Regions from separate parts of the Homo sapiens genome. Here region 2 is linked to region 1. The links come from fine-mapping of genetic effects on gene expression. A gene starts in region 1. The other region holds a variant in brackets. All regions are shown on one strand. Distances are from middle to middle. Region 1 holds the start of LTBR (lymphotoxin beta receptor). Region 2 has its middle 21 kb from the start of LTBR.

Region 1 (8,000 bases):
CTTTATTCTTACTACTTGGAGCTAATTAGCCACTTCACACTGGGGGCTGCCCACTGTGGAAGACAACAGTCCTTTCAGCTGCCCTTATGTGGTACAGATTTCTCTTTCATTTAAAATGATGGACCAGAAAAATGCCACTCTTCATCTAGTCCCCTGGCAGTTTACTTAGAAGTTCACTACTAGAAGTTGGCCGGGCATGGTGGCTCACGCCTGTAATCCCAGCACTTTGGGAGGCCGAGGCGGGTGGATCATGAGGTCAGGGGATCGAGGCCATCCTGGCTAACATGGTGAAACCCCGTCTCTACTAAAATTACAAAAAAAATTAGCTGGGCATAAGTGGTGCACGCCTGTAGTCCCAGCTACTCGGGAGGCTGAGGCAGGAGAATGGCATAAAACCGGGGAGGTGGAGCTTGGAGTGAGCCAAGATCGTGCCACTGCACTCCAGCCTGGGAGACAAAGCAAGACTCTGTCTCAAAAAAAAAAAAAACAAAAAAAAAAACAAAAAAAGAAGTTCACTACTAGAAGTTTATCACTTTGATTGAAGACAGGGTTTATCAACCTTGGCACTATTGACATTTTCGGCTGTATCATTCTTTGTGGTGGGACAGGATGATTCTGTCCTATCTACAATCCTGTGCAGGATGTTCAGCAGCATCCCTGGCTTCCATCTATTAGATGCTAGTAGCACCTCCTGAGTCATTGTGACCAAAACATCTCCAAATATTGCCAAATGACTTCTGGGGGGCAAAGTCACCCCCGTTGAAAAGACTGGGTTAAGGCATTGTCACCACTGAAAATGCAAATACTCTGGAAAAGGACAACCCTCATCTGTTATGCACTTCTGGGTGTTTGCCAGACCATTTCCAAGAGCACTAGTCAGCTAAGAGCAGAGTGGAGAAGAAGAGAGAAAGAAAAAGTATTTAGAAGAATCCATTCCTGGCCGGGTACAGTGGCTCGTGCCTGTAATCCCAGTACTTTGGGAGGCTAAGGTGGGCGAAATGACTTGAGACCAGGAATTCAAAACCAGCCTGTGGCCAACATGGCAAAACACCATCTCTACTAAAAATACAAAAATTAGCCGGGCCTGTTGGCGCATGCCTGTAGTCCCAGCTACTCAACTTGGGAGGCTGAGGCCAGGAAAATCACTTGAACCTGGGAGGCGGAGGTTGCAGTGAGCTGAGATTGCACCATTGCACTCCAGCCTGGGCGACAGACTGAGACTCTGTCTCAAAAAAAAAAAAAAAAGAAGAAGAAGAAGAAGAAGAATCCATTTCCATCAGCCCCCTTTCTGGATGCCTAATGGGCCTGTGGAAAGAAGGCTCTCTCAGCAGCTCCTTCGGAAGAAGGCCTGGGAGAAGAGTCCCACCCTCACACACCTTCTAGGCGTCCTGGGGTGCTCGGTCTGGGTCTGGTGTTGCCCAGTGGAAATCAGTCTCAGGAGGCTCTGGTGAAAAACACAAAAGGACAGGAGTAAAGACAATGCCCTGCCCGCGGTGAACCTGTGGATTTCTCACCCCTGGAGTCTCCCTTTATCCTCCTGGGGATGGCTGGGCATTATAGTAGCCATTTATTGGTAAGATTTGTCTTTCGTGATCCAGCTGGGAAACAAGAAACACTCTAAGTCTTTCAAACAGAAGAAGTTTAACACAGAGAACTAACTGGTACATGGGTGATGGAGGAGCTGAGAAGACAATGGGAGGCAGCTCAGAAAACAGCAGAGCGGGAAGCAGCTACCATCTCTAGGCCTGGAAAGATGGCAGGGTGATGTAGCATCAAAGACCAAGAAGCCTCCAGAGCCATTTGGCAGGAACTAAATAGTGTGGACTACTGGTAGGAGATGGGATTATGGAAGTGGGGAAGGAAGGAAGACAACCAACTGCAGGTGAAGCCAGAAAGCAGAGAGGAGAGAAATAGCCTGGCTGCTTCACTCCTCCCATCCCACCTCCATCCCACAGACCTGCAAGCAAACCAGTAGCTGACTGACACAATAAAGAGGCACACAGAGATAAAGTGATGGGGCCAGGATCAAAACCCAGATCTCAGGGCTCGTTCCTTAGGGTGTAGAGAGTCCATGAGGGCTGAAGCGCCAGCTTACGGCTGGCAGCAGAAAGAAACATACAGTCCAGCCAGCTGGGGTTAAAAGGGGTCTGGACATAGTGGTTACCTGTGAAGCAGGAAGCTTTGACTGGGAAGGGCATGTAGCAAACATTTGTAGTGCAAGGAACATTCTGGGGCCGGGTGCCGTGGCTCACGCCTGTAATCCCAGCACTTTGGGAGGCCAAGGCGGGTGGATCACAACATCAGGAGTTCAAGACCAGCCTGGTCAACATGGCGAAACCCCATCTCTACTAAAAATACAAAAATCAGCCAGGCATGGTGGCAGGCGCCCGTAATCCCAGCTACTCGGGAGGTTGAGGCAGAGAATTGTTTGAACCTGGGAGGCAGAGGTTGTAGTGAGCCGAGATTGCACCACTGCACTCCAGCCTGGGCGACAAAGCGAGACTCTGTATGGAAAGGAAAAGAGAAAAGAAGAGAAGAGAAGAGGTGTTCTGGACCAGTTGGGGGATATGCAAGAATACACAAAAGTGAAGACTCTCTGAGCTGTATCTGTAAGATCAGTGTACCTTACGGTTTCATTGTATTATATGTTACACCTCTATTAAAAGAAAGGGTCTCAGCAGCATAAGACAGGGTGGGGAAAAAAAGAAAAATAGAATAGAGAAAGAGTCCCTGTCTTTTAGGGTAAAATCCTGAAATATTTTCAAATGAAATGATATGATGTCTGGGATTTACTTCAAAATAATAATGAGGGATTTGAAGAGTGTGTGCGTTGGTGGGGGAGGGGGTATACAGAATAAATGAAACTGACAGTGAGTTGAAGCTGGGTAAGGAGTATATGGGAGACTCCCAATATTACTTTTTCTCTTTTGGTATATTATCTTGCATGTGGAATTTCCACAGTAAAAAGTAAAAAGAAGAGAGAGAAAAAAGGACCTAGGGTCGCTACACACACATTCCTTTACGCGTTTAAGAGCTCAGCAGGGACTCTCATCCCAGCCCCCAGCGCTAGGGCCCTGGAAGGCTCAGCAGCCCCGCGCAGTGCATGCTGTTCTGATACTTCTGCCCTTTCCAGCCATCTTTGGCCCATCTGTACGGTGAGCTGCCTGCACCAGGTGAGGGGAGAGAGCCTCACAGAGTGAAATGCCTACAGCCTAGGCAGGTCCTTTCCCCCTTTTGTGACCTCTCCTCCCCATGCACACTTCCCATCACCTGCACCTGTCCAGACATCAGACCTGAAGTTAGACAGACCAGTGTAAGGACGAGTGCTGAACAGAGTCCTTCAGGGAGGGGGATAGTGCCCAAGTGACCTATCTCAAGAGAGGTTAGCCCCTCATCCCAAGGGAGACATCCCTGAGCCACAAGGAGTTGGCAGGACTGCTGGAATGAGTTGGGACCTAGACATCAGGAGACCCAGATTGTAGCTGGCTCTGCGGTGGACTGGCTCTGTGATGTGGCCATCACTCATTTATTCCATAAATACCTATTGGGCACATGGTATGTGCCAGACTCTGCTAAGCATGGGGAACACAGACTTGAAGATTCAGCCTGGGCCATGGTGGCACTCACAGCCTGGTGGGAAGCAAACAAGACAGCCAGGTACAGAGGGCAGTCTTCACGGGGACTGTGCAACCTAGGGCAGAGGTTGCCTTCCAGAGCCTCAGTGAAGCCTCAAGGACAGGTGGGAGTTAGGAAGACGGAAACTTGGGGACCAGAGAACCACGTGTAAAAGGGGGCAGCTGCAAGTAACTCCACGGGTGGGTGGGGTGTTGGGTTGAGGGAGATGGGAGGATGAAACAGGGCAGGAACGAGACCAGGCCACCCTGGAATCCCGGTTCCCTTATGTATCACCCTTAGCCTCCCTCTCCATGCTTAAGGTGAGGGGGCTGGACTGCGTGGGCTCTCAGCTTTCTCCAGTTCTAAGGGGTTTGAAGGTTCATGGGCAAAGAAGCCAGAGCAGAGGGACTGAGTGCCCAGGTCCAGCCTGCTGGCCCCAGGACTCCCCTCCGCATATCCTCCCCCTCTCTTTGGGAGGGAGGTTCCCTGAGGACAGGGAGCAGGGCAAGCTGCACAGCTCTCAAGGGTCTCCTAGGTGACCTGTGCCCACTCCTGTGCGGATTGGGCTGGGTTGGTAGCGTGGGGGGCTGGCTGATTTGCTAGTCCCTTGTAATTTGTCTGAAAAACTCCCACAGTAGGGCAGGACAACGGGGGAGGAACCCGGGCATCTGCCAGCCGGTTCTCCTCGGTCTCAGAGCTGCTTCTGCGGCCTTGCAGTCCCCGCGCCCTGCCCTCTCCATGACTGCCCGTCCTGGGCCCCTCGCTTTCCAGATCCCGCACCCAGCTGTCCCTTGCGCTCTCTGGAACTCCCTCTGCTCTCCCTGCGAGGCTTGTCCAAGGGCTGACCCCGGGCCCGCCGCCCTTCCCTCGGCTGGGCCAGGGCTGTCCGCAGTCCGCTCTCCCGATCGGGCTTCCGAAGAAGGGAGGAGGCCGGTTCCGGCCCCGCGGCCCTCACGTGCTTTCCCGGCCGCCCCTCCCGCCCCGCATCGAGGCAGACAAGCCTGTTCCTCTTCCCTGGGCTGCGATTGCGACAGGCCGGCCTGGCTCCCAGCGCTCCCTGTCCCCGCCCCGCGGCCAGCTCGCTCCACTCCCACTTCCTGAGCTCCGCCATGGGAGCCCTGGAGGCCCGGCCTGGCCGCTCCCGGCCCTGGGGTGCACATCGGCCCTGAGTCCCGTCCCAGGCTCTGGGCTCGGGCAGCCGCCGCCACCGCTGCCCAGGACGTCGGGCCTCCTGCCTTCCTCCCAGGCCCCCACGTTGCTGGCCGCCTGGCCGAGTGGCCGCCATGCTCCTGCCTTGGGCCACCTCTGCCCCCGGCCTGGCCTGGGGGCCTCTGGTGCTGGGCCTCTTCGGGCTCCTGGCAGCATCGCAGCCCCAGGCGGTGAGGAAGGGGCCTGGTAGGAGTGGGCGAGGGTGGGCAAGAGGGATCTGGGCAGCCGTCGCTCCATTCCCTCTGCCCTCCCAAGCTGACCCCTGACTAATTCTTCTCTCCTCTTCTCCATCTCCCTTTGAAGGTGCCTCCATATGCGTCGGAGAACCAGACCTGCAGGGACCAGGAAAAGGAATACTATGAGCCCCAGCACCGCATCTGCTGCTCCCGCTGCCCGCCAGGTGAGAGGCAATGGCAGGACGAACCTGGGCCTCGGAAGTGGGTCACGGGGGCTCCAGCCCCCTCGCGGCCTCAGAGGGAAGGTGGGCACTGTCCCCCAGGAAAACTGGCTGCTGGAGACGAGCGTGGGAAACCCTGGACATCACGTGGAGGAGATGGGACTGGCCCTCCCCACTGGGCCTCCTCTTTCCTTACCTCACTGAGAGGGAGCCGGAGGGCCACTGGCAGGATGATGGGGGGCCAGAGAGACCGAGGGAAAGGCCAGGGTCACACTACAGGCAGCGGAGGTGAGGGTGGAGCCTCGTCTCCTGAGGCTCTACTGCTCCACTCACGTTCTAGGCACCTATGTCTCAGCTAAATGTAGCCGCATCCGGGACACAGTTTGTGCCACATGTGCCGAGAATTCCTACAACGAGCACTGGAACTACCTGACCATCTGCCAGCTGTGCCGCCCCTGTGACCCAGGTGAGTGGGGATGTGCCTGCGGGGGGGCTGGATCCCCTGGAGCTTGGCCCCTCCCTGAGCCCTCCCGTCTCCCCGCCAGTGATGGGCCTCGAGGAGATTGCCCCCTGCACAAGCAAACGGAAGACCCAGTGCCGCTGCCAGCCGGGAATGTTCTGTGCTGCCTGGGCCCTCGAGTGTACACACTGCGAGCTACTTTCTGACTGCCCGCCTGGCACTGAAGCCGAGCTCAAAGGTCAGAGGTCCCTGAGGGGCTGGATGTGAAAAGGAGGCTGGGTGCCAGGGATCTCAAGTGGGAGCAGGGAATATGGTACTGTGTCCACGGCGACCCCCCAGATCCTTGGCTTAAAATTCCTCTTCTCATTCCATGCAGAGGCTCACAGAAGGGTTCTGGAGGGACATGGAACTGGGACAGGTGCAGGGGACACAGGAGGTGGTTCTTCTCAGTACTGGGAAGCTTGGGCAAAATGGTAGGCAGTAGGCCGGGTGTGGTGGCCCACGCCTGTAATCCCAGCACTTTGGGAGGCCGAGGTGGGCGGATCACGAGGTCAGGAGATCGAGACCATCCTGGCTAACACAGTGAAACCCCGTCTCTACTAAAAATACAAAAAATTAGCCGGGCGTGGTGGTGGGCGCCTGTATCCCAGCTACTCGGGAGGCTGAGGCAGGAGAATGGCGTGAACTTGGGAGGCGGAGCTTGCAGTGAGCCGAGATCGCGCCACTGCACTCCAGCCTGGGCGACAGAGCAAGACTCCGTCTCAAAAAAAAAAAAAAAAAAGGCAGCAAAGCAGAGCTTGGGAAAGGTGAGAGCTACGCAATGGGGTGGATGGGCATCCTGAGGCTTAAAGGAAACTCACAGGCCGGCAAAGGGCCCCTCCCTTTTGCCCATTCACCCTGGCTGGCCTGCCTTTCTCTTGCCAGATGAAGTTGGGAAGGGTAACAACCACTGCGTCCCCTGCAAGGCCGGGCACTTCCAGAATACCTCCTCCCCCAGCGCCCGCTGCCAGCCCCACACCAGGTGAGTGCAGCCCCACCCAAGCTCCTTCCACCCTCTGAGAAGCCTCAGCTGCTAACAACCCCCAGCGCCTATCCTTGACACCACGGACTCGACTCACCACTTTCAGCCTCCCCGCCTGCCCAGTGGAGTCGGGACACTGGTGGGCCAGGGCGTGAAAAGGTCATCATCTTTTTTTCCTCTGCAGGTGTGAGAACCAAGGTCTGGTGGAGGCAGCTCCAGGCACTGCCCAGTCCGACACAACCTGCAAAAATCCATTAGAGCCACTGCCCCCAGAGATGTCAGGTGAGGGACCAGGGCTGAGGGACACGGGGGGGGCGCCTCTGAAAATGCCTTAATGCTCCACATCTTAAAAAAAATGGGGAAAAGATGAACACTTCCCTCCCAGAATTGGGCAAGAAGAAAGTTCCTTACAGAAAAAATTGGAGTATCTCTAGGCTAGTTTACACACACACACACACACACACACACACACACTTTTAAAATTATATATACTGTAATACTATGTCAAGGAACACATCCCACACTGAGATGTAATGATAACTACTATTGTCATCATTTTGGGCTTACCAACATTACACAATCCGTTTTTTTTTTTCACACAATCCATTAACTAGACCAAACACCTCTTTATTAGACTATATACTTTTATTATTAGACAGAAGATTCCCATTTGACTCTTTCTTGACTGTTTCCTGTGGACTGATTGGCTTGCTAGCCTAGTAGATGACTATTGTTTCTAATGACTGTAACATCACTAATTGGCAGAAGGTTCACTGTGTGTGTTGGGCACTCTGTAACCACTTTACATTTACTAACTCATTTAATCTTCTTAATGATGCTATGAAGTAGATTCTATTATCATCCTCATGGACTGAAGGAAGAAACCGAGGCTCAAAGAGGTTAAGTGATATACTCAAGATCACCCACACAGGTGGTCACTGGTGTTATTAGAACCTGTACTCAGGTTTTCTTACTCCAGAGCCCATGTCATAATGCATGCACTATAGAAAATTAGAGACTTCAGATAAGCAAAACTAAAAACTCACCCACAGAGCCACTACCTAGAATATCCACTCGTTACATTGTGGTATATATCCTCCCGGACATTTTCTATGCATGTTTATACATACTGGGTTTTGTTGTTGTTTACTAAAAGTGAAGTAATTTTAATATTTCGTAACCTGATTTTTTCATTCCACAATCTAAGTATTTTTCTGTGCCCTGTTAATTTTTAACTATGTATCAAATACAACTGGCATTTTAGAGCTGGAATTTTAGAGAGTATGTAAGCTAACCTC
Region 2 (15,925 bases), 22 kb after region 1:
TCACCGTGTTAGCCAGGATGGTGTTGATCTCCTGACCTTGTGATCCGCCCGTCTCGGCCTCCCAAAGTGCTGGGATTACAGGCATGAGCCACCGTGCCCGGCCGAACATCGGAAATTTTTAAGTGTCCATTTCCTTACATAAACACCAACTTTGATGTGTTATCAAATATTTTGATCTTTGCCAAACTGAAAGATAGAAAAAAAAAAGTTATCTCAGTGTAATTTTTATTTGGATTTCTTATTGCGAGTGAAGTTTTTCACTTCACTGTGAATGAGTATTTCATTTCATATGAGTGAACATTTCATATGTTAAAGAGCCAGTTGTAATTTATTTTCTACTGACTGTTCATATCTCTATTTTTCTTTTTTTTTTTTTTTTTGACAGGGTCTTGCTCTGTCACCCAGGCTGGAGTGCAGTGGCCCAATCACAACTCTCTGCAGCCTCCACCTCCCAGGCTCAAGTGATTCTCCCACCTCAGCCTCTCTCCAGTAGCTGGGACTACAGACACACACCACCACGCCAGGTTACTTTTTAAATTTTTTGTAGAGATGAGGTTTCACCATGTTGCCCAGGCTGGTCTCAAACTCCTGAGCTCCTTCTGCCTCAGTCTTCAAAGTGCTGGGATTACAGGTGTGAGCCATCACACTTGGCCTCCTATATTTCTATTAGTTTTCAAATGTTATCTTTTTATCTCCAGTCATCTATTGAACAATAATTTTTTCTTCACTAATTTAAAACTACTGTTATGATAAGCCAAGTTTTTGTGCAAGTTTGAATTTACTTCTGGATTTTCAATTCTCTCTCATTGATCCGTCTTTTCAATTTGCCAACATTACAGTCTTTCAATTGTTTTAGCTTTATATTTTAATATCTATTAGGGCCAGTAGCTCCTTTTATTCTCTGTTTTTAAGAATTTTTCTAACTATATTTTCTTCCTTTTCCACATGAATTTTAGGACCTGTTTATTTAGTTCACTCCCCCTCCAAAAGAAAGGCTCCTTTGAGGATGTGTTTTGAGATTGTATTGAATTTACAAATCAATTAGTGTGTTGGGTTTGTTTGTTTGTTTTTAATTTGAGACAGAGTTTCGCTCTGTCACCCAGGCTGGAGTGCAGTGGTGCGATCTCGGCTCACTGCAACCTCCGCCTCCCGGGTTCAAGCGATTCTCCTGCCTCAGCCTCCTGAGTAGCTGGGATTACAGGTGCATGCTACCATGCCCGACTAATTTTTGTATTTTTAGTAGAGATGGGGTTTCACCATATTGGCCAAGCTGGTCTCGAACTCCTGACCTCAAGTGATCCACCTGCCTCAGCCTTCCAAAGTGCTGGGATTACAGGCATGAGCTACCGTGCCGGGCCGGGTCTTCTTTTCAAGAACATGATATACCCTTCTATTTGTTGATACCCTCCTCTTTGTGTCCTCAGTAGCATTTTAATGTTTCCTTAATATGGGCATTTCTCATTATAGTCATTCCTTGGTGTTTTACCTTTATAAGTGCTATAAAAATGGGATTTTTTAGTTTTGTTTTCTTTCTTTTTCCCCAGCCACCTACTGAATTCCCTCATGATCTATAATAGTTTTTTTGTTTTGTTTTGTTTTTGTTTCTTTTCTGAGACAGAGTCTCACTCTGTCACCCAGGCTGGAGTGCAGTGGTGTGATCTCAGCTCACTGCAAGCTCCGCCTCCCGGGTTCACGCCATTCTCCTGCCTCACCCTCCCTAGTAGCTGAGACTACAGGCGCCCGCCACCACGCCCGCCTAATTTTTTGTATTTTTAGTACAGACGGGGTTTCACCGTGTTAGCCAGGATAGTCTCGATCTCCTGACCTTATGATCTGCCCACCTCGACCTCCCAAAGTGCTGGGATTACAGGCGTGAGCCACCGCGCCTGGCCTATAACAGTTTTTCAATTAATTTTCTTAGGTTATCACCTACAAATAATGCTAATTTTGTAATAATTTTTCTAGAAACAAGTTATTGCCATGTTGCCCAGGCTGGTACCGAACTCCTAGGCTCAAGCAATCTGCCCACCTTGGCCTCCCAAAGTGCTGGGATTACAGGTGTGAGCCACCACACCTGGCCTATAACAGTTTTTCAATTAATTTTCTTAGGTTATCACCTACAAATAATGCTAATTTCATAGTAATTTTTCTAGAAACAAGTTATTGCCATGTTGCCCAGGCTGGTACCGAACTCCTAGGCTCAAGCAATCTGCCCACCTTGGCCTCCCAAAGTGCTGGGATTACAGGTGTGAGCCACCGCACCTGGCCTATAACAGTTTTTCAATTAATTTTCTTAGGTTATCACCTACAAATAATGCTAATTTCATAATAATTTTTCTAGAAACAAGTTATTGCCATGTTGCCCAGGCTGGTATTGAACTCCTAGGCTCAAGCAATCTGCCCACCTTGGCCTCCCAAAGTGCTGGGATTACAGGCGTGAGCCACCGCGCCTGGCCCTAATATTTTTAAATCTCATCTAAATGCATCTCATAGTACCTCCAGAACAATAGTAAATAGTAATGGACAGCTCTGTCTCAATCCTGATTTTAAGGGCAATACTTCCAGTATTTTCTCATTAAGCAGCAGTTGAAATACGTATATTTATTTTATTATGCTAAGGAAGTATCCATATCTTATTATTTCATAATAATCCAATGGATAATGAATAAATAATAGAAACGGAAAGACCAGATCAAAGGCTACTGCAATAGGGAGATGGAGAAAGGTGGAAGGTTGGAGATATGCCTTAGAGATAGAGTCAACAGGATTTATTGGTGGGCGTGGGTCCCAGCTCATATTTTATGGCCTTGGGTATTAGTTTGTTTAATCTGAGCCTCACATTCAAATTAACATTTGGTAAACATTAAGTGAGAATTTACTATGTACTAGTCATCTTAAGATACAACAGCCAACGAGACAGACCTGATACATAAACTTCTGGAGCTTGTAAAATAATCACAATTATTGCTTTTGTAGACAAGTGCTACAAAAGAGAAGCACAACATATAACCAGTGACCGATTCTAGGTCTGGAGATGAGGAAATTCCTCCCTGAGGAAATTTAAGATACAACCTGAAGAATAAATAAGGGCTAGCCAAATTGAAGGGGTGTTGGAGAGGAGAGCTCTGCTGGTGGGTTAAATGGTACGTGCAAAGGCCCTGTGATAGGAAGAATAGTTTGGCTGGAACTTGGGAATAGAGAGATGAAGCTAGAGAAGTAGGCGGGTAACACGTCATTCAGACTTACAGACTACAGCAATTTTGAACTTTACCCTAAGAGCAATAGGAAACCAGTAAAATTTTTTTCCAGTGTAGTAAAGTATATATATATAAATATATATGTTATATGTGTGTGTGTGTGTATATATACACACATACATATAAAATATGTGTATATAGTGTATATATACACACATATATATAAAATATGTGTGTGTGTGTGTGTGTGTGTGTGTGTATATATATTTTTTTTTTCACTCTGTTGCCCAGGCTGAAGTGCAGTGGCATAATCTCGGCTCACTGCAACCTCTGCCTCCCAGGTTCAAGAGATTCTCCTGTCTCAGCTTCCCTAGTAGCTGGGACTACAGGCGTGCACCACCACACCTGGCTAATTTTTGTATTATTAGTAGTGATGGGGTTTCACCATGTTGGCCAGGCTGGTCTCGAACTCCTGACCTCAAGTGATCCACCTGCCTTGGCCTCCCAAAGTACTTGGATTACAGTCATGAGCCACTTCACCCGGCCTGTAAAGTATATAAAGTATATTAATCTTAAGTGTATAGCCTGAAGAAGTGTTACATAGGTATATACCCATGTTACCATCACAGAAGATATGCAACATTTTACTTCCTTAGAAGATAACTTCATGCCACTTTCCACTCAGTCATGCTTACTGCTTGAGTTCCAGTTTATATTCTGGCAGACATATGACATCCCAGAGATATCCACTTTCCTATTTTGACTTATATCCCCATCAGTTAGTATTTGTTTGTTTGTTTGTTTTTAAGATGGAGTCTCCCTCTTGTCGCTCAGGCTGGAGTGCAGCGGTGCTATCCTGGCTCACTGCAACCTCTGCCTCCCAGGTTCAAGCGATTCTCCTGCCTCAGCCTCCCGAGTAGCTGGGATTACAGGCGCCCACTCACCTGGCTAATTTTTGTATTTTTAGTAGCGACGGGGTTTCGCCATGTTGGCCAAGCTGGCCTTGAACTCCTGGCCTCAAGCCATCTGCCCATTTCGGCCTCCCGAAGTGCTGGGATTACAGACATGAACCATCACGCCTGGCTCATTTGGGTTTTTTTTCTTAATGAGTTTTTAGTTTGGAAAAATTTTAGAATTACAGAAAAGTTGCAAAGATAGTACAGAGGGTTTTGGTATACCTTTCACCCAGCTGCCCTTAATGTTAATATCTCACATAGCCATGATACATTTGTCAAAACTAATTAAGAAATTAACATATCAACTAAACTACAGATTTTATTTAGATTTCACCAGTTTTTTTCCTTAAATCCTTTTTCTGTTCCAGAATCCAATCCAGGATACCACATTGCACTTAGTGATTATGATCCCTTAATATTTAGTCTTCTCTGATCTGTGACAGTTTCTGTCTTTCCTTATGCTGAGACAGGCAGATCGCTTAAGTCCACAAGCTCGAGACTAGCCTAGGCAACATGGCTAAACCCTGTCTCACAAAAAAAAATACAAAAATTAGCCTGGTGTGCTGATGTGTGCTTCTAGTCCCACCTACTTGAGGGGCTGAGGTGAAAGGATTTCTAGAGCCCGGGAGGTCGAGGCTGCAGTGAGATGTGATCCCACCCTGCACTCCAGCCTGGGAGACAGAGCGAGACTGTCTCACAAAGTGAAAAAAAAAAAGAAAAGAAAAAGGAAAAAGCAACTGCCAACCTGTCTCCAAAGTGACTATATCATTTTGCATTCCCAAAAGCAATGAATGAGAGTTCCTGTTGCACATCTTCACCCGCATTTGGTGATGGTGGCAGTGTTTTAGAAATTCTAGTAAGACCAGCATTTGGTGATGGTGGCAGTGTTTTAGAAATTCTAGTAAGACCAGCATTTGGTGGTTGGTGGCAGTTTTAGAAATTCTAGTAAGACCAGCATTTGGTGGTTGGTGGCAGTGTTTTAGAAATTCTAGTAGGACCAGCATTTGGTGATGGTGGCAGTGTTTTTTTTTATTTTTTATTTTTATTTATTTTATTTATTTATTTTTTTGAGACGGAGTCTTGCTCTGTCACCCAGGCTGGAGTGCAGTGGCGCGATCTCGGCTCACTGCAAGCTCCGCCTCCCGGGTTCACGCCATTCTCCTGCCTCAGCCTCCTGAGTAGCTGGGACTATAGGCGCCCATCACCACACCCAGCTAATTTTTTTTATTTTTAATAGAGGTGGGGTTTAACCATGTTAGCCAGGATGGTCTCAATCTCCTGACCTCGTGATGATGGTGGCAGTGTTTTAGAAATTCTGGTAAGACCAGTATTTGGTGGTTGGTGGCAGTGTTTTAGAAATTGTAGTAAGACCAGCATTTGGTGGTTGGTGGCAGTGTTTTAGAAATTGTAGCACGACTAGCATTTGGTGGTTGGTGGCAGTGTGTTAGAAATTCTAGTAAGACCAGCATTTGGTGGTTGGTGGCAGTGTTTTAGAAATTCTAGTAAGACCAGCATTTGGTGGTTGGTGGCAGTGTTTTAGAAATTGTAGTAGGTGAGCAGTGGTACCTCATTGTGGTTTTAATTTTCATTTCTCTAATGACAAATGCTGTTAACCAACTTTCATATGCTTATTTGCCATCCAGGTATTTTATTTTCTGAAGTGTCTCTTTAGATATTTTGCTTGTTATTAAATTGGATCATTCGGCAGTGTGCAGTGGCTCACGCCTATAATCTCAGCACTTTGGAAGCCCTAGGCGGCTGAATCGCTTGAGGTCAGGAGTTCGAGACCAGTGTGACCAACATGGCGAAACCCCATCTCTACTAAAAATACAAACATTAGGCCGGGCATGGTGGCTCACGCCTGTAATCCCAGCACTTTGGGAGGCCGAGGTGGGCGGATCATCTGAGGTCAGGAGTTCAAGACCAGCCTGACCAACATGGAGAAAGCCCGTCTCTACTAAAAATACAAAATTAACCGGGCATGGTGGAGCATGCTTGTAATCCCAGCTACTCGGGAGGCTGAGGCAGGAGAATCACTTTAACCGGGGAGGCACATGTTGTGGTGAGCCGAGATCGTGCCATTGCAATCCAGCCTTGGCAACAAGAGCAAAACTCCATCTCAAAAAAAAAAAAAAAAACGCAAAATACAAAAATTAGCCAGGTGTGGTGGCACGTGCCTGTAATAATCCCAGCTACTCAGGAGGCTGAGGCAGGAGAATCGCTTGAACACGGGAGGCAGAGGTTGCCGTAAGCCAAGATCACGCCACTGCACTCCAGCTTGGGTGACAGAGTGAGATTCTGTCTCAAAAAAAAAAAAAAAGAAAGAAAGAAAGAAAGAAAAAGAAGAATTATTTATTCTGGATAGAAGTCCTTTATCAGATACATTATTTGCAAATATTTTCTCCCAGGCTGTGGATTGTCTATTCATTTTCTCAACCTATCTTTCACAGAACAAAAGTTTTTATTTGTGATAAGGTACAATTCATCATTTTTTTCTTTATGAATTGTGTTTCCAGTACCAGAAAACTTATCACCAAACCTAAGGTTACACACACACAGGGTCTCCTGTGCTTTTTTCTAGATGTCTTACTTTCTACATTTAAGTTTATGAGCCATTTTTTGGTGTAAGTGTGAGGTACGTGTTGAGGTTTTTTGGTTTTGTTTTTACATATGAATGTCTAATTTTTCCAGCACTGTTTGTTGAAAAGACTGTTCTTTCACCACTGGATTGCCTTTGCATCTTTGTCAAAAATCAGTTGACATTATTTGTGTGGGTTTATTTCTGGTCTCTCTATTGGCTCTATTCACCTAAGTTGTCTACTCTTTCGCTAATACCACACTAATTGCTTTCTAATAAGTCTAATAAGTGGTAGAGTAATTTCTCCTACTATTTTTTTAGTTCCTTTTCATTTCTTTCCCTTTTCATATAAATTTTAGAATCAGTTTGTCAATTTCTATCAAAAAAAAGCTTCCTATGATTTTGATTGATAATGCATTGAATCTATAGATCAAACTGGGGAGAATTAACATATTTACAATATTGAATTTTCTAATCTATGAATACAGTATATCTTTCTATTTATTTATAC[CT/C]TTTTTTTTTTTTTTTTGAGGCGAGGTATCACTCTGTCACCCAGACTAGAGTGCAGGCTAGAGTGCAGTGGTGCAATCATAGCTCACTGCAACCTTGAACTCCTGTGCTCAAGTGATCTTCCCACCTCAGTCTCCTAAGTAGCCGAGAGTACAGGCACATGCCACCATGCCTGAGTAATTTTTTATTTTGTGTAGAGACTGCGTCTTTCTGTGTCGTCCAAGCTGGTCTCGAACTTCTGGCCTCAAGTGATCCCCCTGCCTCAACCTCCCAAAGCACTGGGATTACAGGTGCACCCAGCCCACACCCAGCCCACACCCAGCCCCCACCCAGCCTACACCTAATCATTTATTTATATCTTTGTTGATTTCCTTTTTCTTTTCTTTTTTTTAATTTAGCCAGCTTTTTTTAAATTTTAACTTTTTTTTGGAGGGGAAAGGGAGTGGTCATGGACATACTGAAGTAGACACAAAAATATAGAGAATACTGCACTTCCCAGGGCTCGTCACACGTGCTTCAAAAATTACCAACAACTTGCCATTTTGTTTCATTATCTGCACCCACAATGGTGGATGAGGGAGTCTAAAAAATATCCCAAACATGAAATCTCAAAAATGTGATTTTAATCATGAATATTTTCACAAACATCCTAACAGATATGAATATAGAGAAAATACACTAAGATTTCACACCTAAGAAAATTTTAAAAATGACTTATAACATTATCCAATACCTAGCCCTTAAAGAAAGGAAATCCTGAATTGTCTGAAATATTTTTTATACTGATTTTGTCTGAATGAGGTCCCACCAGCTCCAAATATGGCATCTGATGGCTGTTCCTCTTAAATCTATTATAATCCATAAATTTACCCAAGTCTCCAAGTAGCCTGTCTGCTCTTTGAAAAAGGAATTGAGAGACCATAATCTGAGTGAAAATTCTCACTGATCATGGATTGTCATTGCTTTTAAACCATTCTTTGAAAAGTATTGCAGAAAAAAATGTTTTGTTTTCTTTTTTTTTGAGACAGAGTCTCACTCTGTCTCCCAGGCTGGAGTGCAATGGCGCAATCTCGGCTCACTGCATCCTCCACCTCCCAGATTCAAGCAATTCTCCTGCCCCAGCCTCCCGAGTAGCTGGGACTACAGGCGCGCTCCACCACGCCCTGCTAATTTTTGTATTTTTAGTAAAGACCGGGTTTCACCATGTTGGCCAGGCTGGTCTCAAACTCCTGACCTCCTGTGATCCGCCTGCCTCAGCCTGCCAAAGTGCTGGGATTACAGGCGTGAGCCACCGCGCCCGGCCAAAGGTGTGTTTTTTATGAGAGTATTTTTAAAAACATTCAAATTGTCGGTCACAGCTCCTTGCCTATGCGCCTAAAAAGAGATAGCCCAAGACAGACGGGGGAAAGAAAAGGGGAGACAGAAACAAAAAGAAAACTGGCAAACAGAGGAGAAGTCCAAAAGCCCAACTCCCATAAGTCAAGACTTCCCACAGTTCTCTAAGTCAGCAAATGAATGTAATTTAAACTGCTTTAAACGTCATACAAAAATAAATCCTTTTTAGTAAATCGATAAACAGAGGCATCTCCGTGACGACTGGTGGCAGCATGTACTCCTCCTTTTCTAAAACAAGGAGTTCTAAAACAACTCAAGGCAGCAGAGAGCCCTGAGTTGCAAACATGAAAAGCATAACTTTCTCGAGTTGGCTGTTAAGTGTAATAGGAGAGGCACCACTCCACTCCTACCTCTCCTTTCTTTAACCAATGCATTTTGGCTACAGAAGAAATTATGCCTATTCTTAGTCACTATTAAGCACATATACAATGTCGAAAATTGAACAGTACTCCAAGAGGGTGCAAAATGACTACATGCCACTTTAACTGAGGCTTCCAAAAATTGAGATTTCTACTTATAAGGAATGTGGTACACATTAGAACTACTGAGTCCCATGGTCATCCATGCATTACCTTACCCTTTTTGTATAACTTATAGAAATGGGTCCAAAAAGACGTTGTGAGATATGAGGTATGAAGTGTTCAGTAAGTTCATTGATGGTCCTGCTAGCAATAGCATGTAAGTGAAGCATATCCAAATCTAGAGTAAGTGTTTATCTCAGTGAAGACAAATCCCTGCCCCATCCATGACAAAATACTTGCAAGAATACAAGAATACTTCCCCTGACATATGGGACACTTAGCAGCATCAGCATCCAGAGGTCAGCCTTGGTGAGCTAAGTCTATACTATAGAGCTCAAGTATAACCTCTACCACTGCCTGCCACCCTAGTCACATTTTTTTTTTTTTTTTTTGAGATAGAGTCTCACTCCGTCACCCAGGCTGGAGTGCAATGGCGTGATCTCAGCTCACTACAACCTCCACCTCCCAGGTTCAAGTGATTCTCCTGCCTCAGCCTCCCGAGTAGCTGGGATTGCAGTCACCCGCCACCAGGCCCGGCTAATATTTGTATTCTTAGTAGAGATGGGGTTTCACCATGTTGGCCAGGCTGGTCTCAAACTCCTGACCTCAGATGATCCACCCACCTCGGCCTCCCAAAGTGCTGGCATTATAGGCGTGAGCCACCACGCTGGCCACATTGTTTACAAATAAATCACTTGGGCAGTAAGTGGGGTGATACGAAGAGACTACATGACAGCCATATGGTTGATGTGTACCTGATTGCTGATAGCCTCCTCTGAAGAGTGGGAATTTCGATTAGCATTCACGTGGGACATTATTCTCATATTCTGGGACCGTTCTGGGAAATTCATCCACATCACTGTTTCCTGAAACTTCTTGTCAACACAACCTTCACTTTTGCCCACTTAAAATCTCTGTCTATCCACACCATTAGCCATGCACATTCAGTTTAGATCAGTGTCTTAGGTCACGCTCCTTCCAGAAAAAGTAAACAATGACATTCAATACTCCAAATACTGCTGAGTGGCAGCAATTCTTTCCCTATTGCCAATTATGGACATATTTGACTGGGGTAATATTATTACGGCTTCTAATACTACTGTTACAATTGGCTTCAGTAGTATTAGCCAACATATGTTGAATGCTTACTATGTACAGGACAGTGTTCTAAGCATACTAAAACTATTCGCTCATGAGAGGCACGATTACCTCTCCATTTTTAAAATGAGGGGAAAAGCCAGAGGAAAATAAGAAGAAAAAAGAAAAAAGCCAATTTGTCTGGAACTGGTTAGTAATGGGCTGAACTTGTAGCATTCAGTTTTTCTTTTCTTTCTTTCTCTTTTATTTATTTATTTATTTATTTATTTATTTATTTATTTCTTGAGACGGAATCTCCATCGCCCAGGCTGGAGTGCAGTGGTGCAGTCTTGGCTCACCGCCTCCTCCGCCTCCTGGGGTCAAGCAATTCTCTTGCTTCAGCCTCCCAAGTAGCTGGGATTACAGGCGTGTGCCAACACACTGGGCTAATTTTTGTATTTTTAGTAGAGACGGGGTTTCACCATGTTGGCCAGACTGGTCTTGAACTCCTGACCGCAAGTGATCCGCCCGCCTCGGCCTCCCAAAGTGCTGGGATTACAGGCAGGAGCCACCATGCCCGGCCCCATGTTGATTTCTTTCGTCAGTATTTTGTAGTTTTTAGCACACATATCTCCCACGTATTTTGTTATATTTATACCTAAAAACTTCATGGGGGCTGCTATTGTAAATGGTATTCTATAAACTACAGTACGTTGTTTCTTTGTATAGATCCAAGATTTTGATTATATTTCTTCTTCTTCTTTCTTTTTTGAGACGAAGTTTCACTCTGTTCAACCCAGGCTGACACAATCTCGGCTCCCTGCGACCTCCGCCTCCCGGGTTCAAGCAATTCTCCTGCCTCAGCCACTTGAGTAGCTGGGACTACAGGCGCCCACCACCACGCCCAGATAATTTTTGTGTTTTTAGTAGAGACAGGGTTTCACCATGTTGGCCAGGCTGGTCTCAAACTCCTGACCTCAAGTGATCACCCGCCTTGGCCCCCCAAAGTGCTGGGATTACAGGCGTGAGCCACCACACCCAGCCTCTTCTTCTTAGAGAACTTGCTTTGACATTTATTATAAAGTAGGTCTGCTGGCAATCAACTTCCTCAGTTTCTGTTTGTCTGATAAACTTTTAATTTTGGCCTGGTGTAGTTGCTAATGCTTGTAATCCCAGCATTTTGGGAGGCTGAGGTGGGAGGATCACTGGAGTCCAGGAGTTTCAGACCATCCTGGGAAACGTAGTGAGACCCCGTCTCTAAAAAAATAAAAATAAAAATAGAAAACTCTTAATTTGGGCCAGGCACAGTGGCTCACGCCTGTAATCCTAGCACTTTGGGAGGCCAAGGTTGGTGGATCACCTGAAGTCAGGAGTTTGAGACTAGCCTGGCCAACATGGCGAAAACCCGTCTCTACTAAAAATACAAAAATTAGCTGGGTATGATGGCAGGCACCTAGCTGAGGCAGGAGAATCACTTGAACCCGGGAGGCGGAGGTTGCAGTGAGCCAAGATCATGCCACTGCACTCCAGCCTGAGTGATGGAGCGAGACTCCATCTCAAAAAAAAAAAAAAAAAAGATATTACTCCATTTCATTTTGCTTTTATTGTTTCTGACTAGCAGTCTGCTGTAATTCTTATCCTCGCTCCTCGGTAAGATATTATGTTTTTTCCCCCTTGGCTGACTTCCAGATTTTCTTTCTCTTTGGTTTTCAGCAGTTTTAATATGATATGCCTAGATGCATGGGTTTGGTGAGGGGCTGTGTTGTTTTGGTATTTATCCTGCTTGGTGTTCTCTGAGCTTCCTTGATCTGTGCTTTTCTGTCTGTTACTAATTTTGGATAATTCTAAGCCATTATCTCTTCAAATGTTTCTCCTGTCTTATTCTTTTTGTTCGTTTGTTTGTTTGTTTAACTAAGTCTGATTAGACAAATCCTGTCCAAGTCTTTCTTCTCCTTCTGGAATTCCAATTATGGGCATGTTAACTCATTTGGTATTCTTGGATGGTGTCTTCTTTCTTTCTTTTTTGTTGTTGTTCTGTTTTGTTTTTTACCCACTCTTTTTTTGCACTTCAGTTTGGGTAATTCCTCTTTATTTTTTTGCAATTTTATAACTTTATTTGATGTATTTGACTATCAGCGATTAGTTCTCATCCACATTGACTGTCTGTAGATTTTTGAAAGTGGTAGCAAATACATAGGTAACCAAAGTATAGAGCTTATTTGTGAATCTTCATCCTCATTACGTTTTCTGGACAGCCGCACATGGATTCGGTGTCGGACATTCCTTATTCCTTTGGCCCAGACAGCTTTGTTGAGCCTGGTATCAATGCGCACATCTGGAGTTTCCATCTCCTTCATGGCAAATTTCCGAATCTCTTTGAGTGCCCGAGGGGCACGCTTCTTGAAGCCTACTCCACAAATGCGCTTGTGAATGTTGATGGTGTATTCTCGGGTCACCACTTCGTTGATGGCAGAACGGCCCTTTTTCTTCTCGCCACCCTTCTTTGTGGGAGCCATTCTGCCATGTCCAAGTTGGAAAGGGAGTTTGGGAAATTTCTATTGACCTCTACACCCAAGGTCACTGATTCTTTTCTCAGCTATACTGAGTCTACTGATGAACCAGTCAAAGGTGTTCTTCATTTCTGTCACCACGATTTTATTTCAAGCATTTCCATTTTATTCTTATGGTTTCCTCTGCTGAATTTATCCATCTTCTTTTGGCATGTTGTCTACCTTTTCCATTAAATCCTTTAACATAATCATGTTACTTTAAATTCCATGTCTGATGTCATATCTGAGTCTGGTTCTGATTTTTTTTTTTTGTCTTTTTAGATTGTGTCTTTTTCTTTTTTTTGAAACGGAGTATTGCTCTGTCACCCAGGTTGGAGTGCAGTGGCATGATCTCTGTTCATTGCAACCTCTGCTTCCTGGGTTCAAGCAATTCTCCTGCCTCAGCCTCCCCAGTAGCTGGGTTGACAGGCATGCGCTACCATGCCTAGCTAATTTTTGTATTTGTAGAGAGGGGTTTCACCATACTGGCCAGGCTGATCTTGAACTCCTGACCTCGTCATCCGCCTGCCTTGGCCTCCCTAAGTACTGAGACTACAGGTGTGAGCCACCATGCCCAGTCCAGATTGTGTTTTTTCTTTCCTTTTTGTATACCTTGTGGTTTTCATTGAAAGCTGGATATGCTGTATAACACAACAGATACTGACATAAATATTTTGTATTCTTGAAGATAAGCATTCATTTCTTTCTGCTACTTCTCTAGTATAGAGATTTCCATTAATGTAGTCAGGAGGGCTGGGTTTGAAGTTTGCTTTTGCACCAACATATATTATTATCCTCAGTGCATCAGGGGCTTAAAATTCCTCTAGTGGTGCCTTGTTTTTGTCTCTTGGATTTGTATCTTCCTTTTGCACTGTTCCCTAAATAAAGTCTGTCTCTTGCAAGTTCTCCCAGATACATTCTTGTATTATTTTTCACTGGAGGCCTGTCATGTGGTGGTAGGCTATGAAGGAGGTTATGTGTTCCCTTGTGTTATGATTGAGGCTCAGCCTTAGGTAGGCACTATGAACCTGGATCTTGGGAGTGTGGCCTTCATAATTGCCCTTCCTCCAGGTATAATGGTTGGCCTGGCAATTATTCCGGTCCTCACTAAAAGGAAGAACTTCTTCTTTTTTCCCCTGTTCCCTTCCCCTAATTTCAGTGGGTTTCCACCAATGCCCTCTGCCCATAAGTTTTGTGTTTTCTGTTTTTTTGAGACAGAGTCTCACTCTGTCCCCCAGGCTGAAGTGCAGTGGTGCGATGTTGGCTCACTACAACCTCTGCGTGATGGGTTGAAGCGATTCTCCTGCCTCAGCCTCCTAAGTAGCTGGGATTACAGGTGCCCACCACCTGGCTAATTTTTGTATTTTTAGTAGAGATGGGGTTTCGCCACGTTGGCCAGGCTGGTCTCAAACTCCTGACTTCAAGTGACCCACCCACCTCAGCCTCCCAAAGTGCTGGGATTATAGGCATGAGCCACAGCATCCGGCCTGCCTGTAAGTTTTTATGACCTTCCCCTTGCAGATGAAGTCTTGTCCTAAAGGAATGGAGTCTTGGCCATAGCTGCTGTTCCGTTCCCCACCCCCAGCAAGCACCATGGAGCAGAGGGTGTCAGAATTCTCCCATTTCACCTATCTTCCTGTGGGTGATTGATGGGGGTCCTGAAAGAAAAGCCTGAAAGAAAGCGCAAGACTCCCTTTGTCTGCAGCTTCCAGGGACTTCATACTCTCTTAATCACCAACAGTAGGCCACTATTAATTGTTAAAAATGTCCAGCTTAATTTTCTTACTTAAGTAAGGAATGCTCAGGTACTGTTTCCCCCTGTAGGTACCTGTCTCTCTCTCGGTTTCAGGTTGTCTGCCCTGTGACCTCAATTCTCTTAGGAGATCCAGAAAAGTCATTCATGTGCAGCTTTTCCAGCTCTTTTCTTGTTGCATAGCTGGGAGCAACACTCTTGCCATCGTTTCAGTTTGGACCAGAAGTCCACTAAAGGACTTTAAGCAGGGAAAGGAAATGTTCAGATATGTTTTTTTTTTTTTTAAGATGGAGTCTCGCTCTGTTGCCCATGCTGGAGTGCAATGCCTCGATCTCGGCTCACGGCAATCTCCGCCTCCCAGGTTCAAGTGATTCACCTGCCTCAGCCTCCCAAGTAGCTGGGATTACAGGCGTGCACCACCACGCCTGGCTAATTTTGTATTTTTAGTAGAGACTGGGTTTCACTATATGTTGGCCAGGCTAGTCTTGAACTTCTTCAATATTGTGTTGGCTATTCTGGATCTTTTGCTTCTCCATATAAACTCTATAATCAGTTTGGCAATATCCATAAAATAGCTTGCTAAGAGTTTTACTGGGATTGCATTGAATCTATAGATCAAGTTGGAAAGAACTGACATCTTGACAATATTGAGTCTTCTTCTCCAGGAACATGGAATATCCTTCCATTTATTTTCTTTGATTTCTTTCATCAGAATTTTGTAGTTTTCCTCATATAGATGATTTTTTTTTTTTTTTTGAGATGGAGTCTCACTCTGTCTCCCAGGCTGGAGTGTGGTGGCACGATCTCTGCTCACTACAAGCTCAGCCTCCTGGGTTCAAGCAATTCTCCTGTCTCAGCCTCCCGAGTAGCTGGGATTACAGGCGCCTGCCACCACGCCCGGCTATTTTTTGTATTTTTAGTATAGGTGGAGTTTCACCATATTGGTCAGGCTGGTCTAGAACTCCTAACCTCAGGTGATCCATCCACCTTGGCCACCCAAAGTGCTGGGATTACAGGAGTCAACCACTGTACCCATCCCCCATGTGGATCTTGTACATATTTTGTTATACCTAAGTGTTTCTTTTGGGGGAGGCTTCTAATATACTTGGTATTGTGTATTTAATTTCAAAGTCTATTTGTTCATTGATGATATCTAGGAAAGCAATTGACCTTTGTGTATTAACCTTGTATCCTGAAAACTTGCCATAATTGTCTACTGGGGCTGAGCGTGGTGGACCAAGCCCTGTAATCCCAGCACTTTGGGAGGCTGAGGCAGGGGGATCCCCTGAGGTCAGGAGTTCAAGACAAGCCTGGCCAATGTGATGAAACCCCGTCTCTACTACAAACACAAAAATTAGCCAGGCGTGGTGGTGGGTGCCTGTAATCCCA

What was found. PIP is the estimated chance that this variant, and not a neighbour inherited with it, causes the effect.
Region 2: its variant is fine-mapped to the expression of LTBR in synovium (Steinberg 2020, PIP 0.95).

What each region holds. Positions count from the first base shown.
Region 1 is chr12:6,379,461-6,387,460 of GRCh38, forward strand. LTBR (lymphotoxin beta receptor) reads left to right here and starts at 4,702. Exons shown (of 10, transcript NM_002342.3): 1 at 4,702-4,994; 2 at 5,128-5,224; 3 at 5,562-5,687; 4 at 5,767-5,919; 5 at 6,606-6,702; 6 at 6,887-6,984. The coding sequence starts at 4,899. RefSeq lists an enhancer at 3,755-4,620.
Region 2 is chr12:6,397,264-6,413,188 of GRCh38, forward strand. It overlaps the pseudogene RPL31P10. Among named protein-coding and RNA genes, the nearest start is that of LTBR, 21 kb to the left of the region's middle. The variant CT/C (reference allele first, on the strand shown) is at 7,243.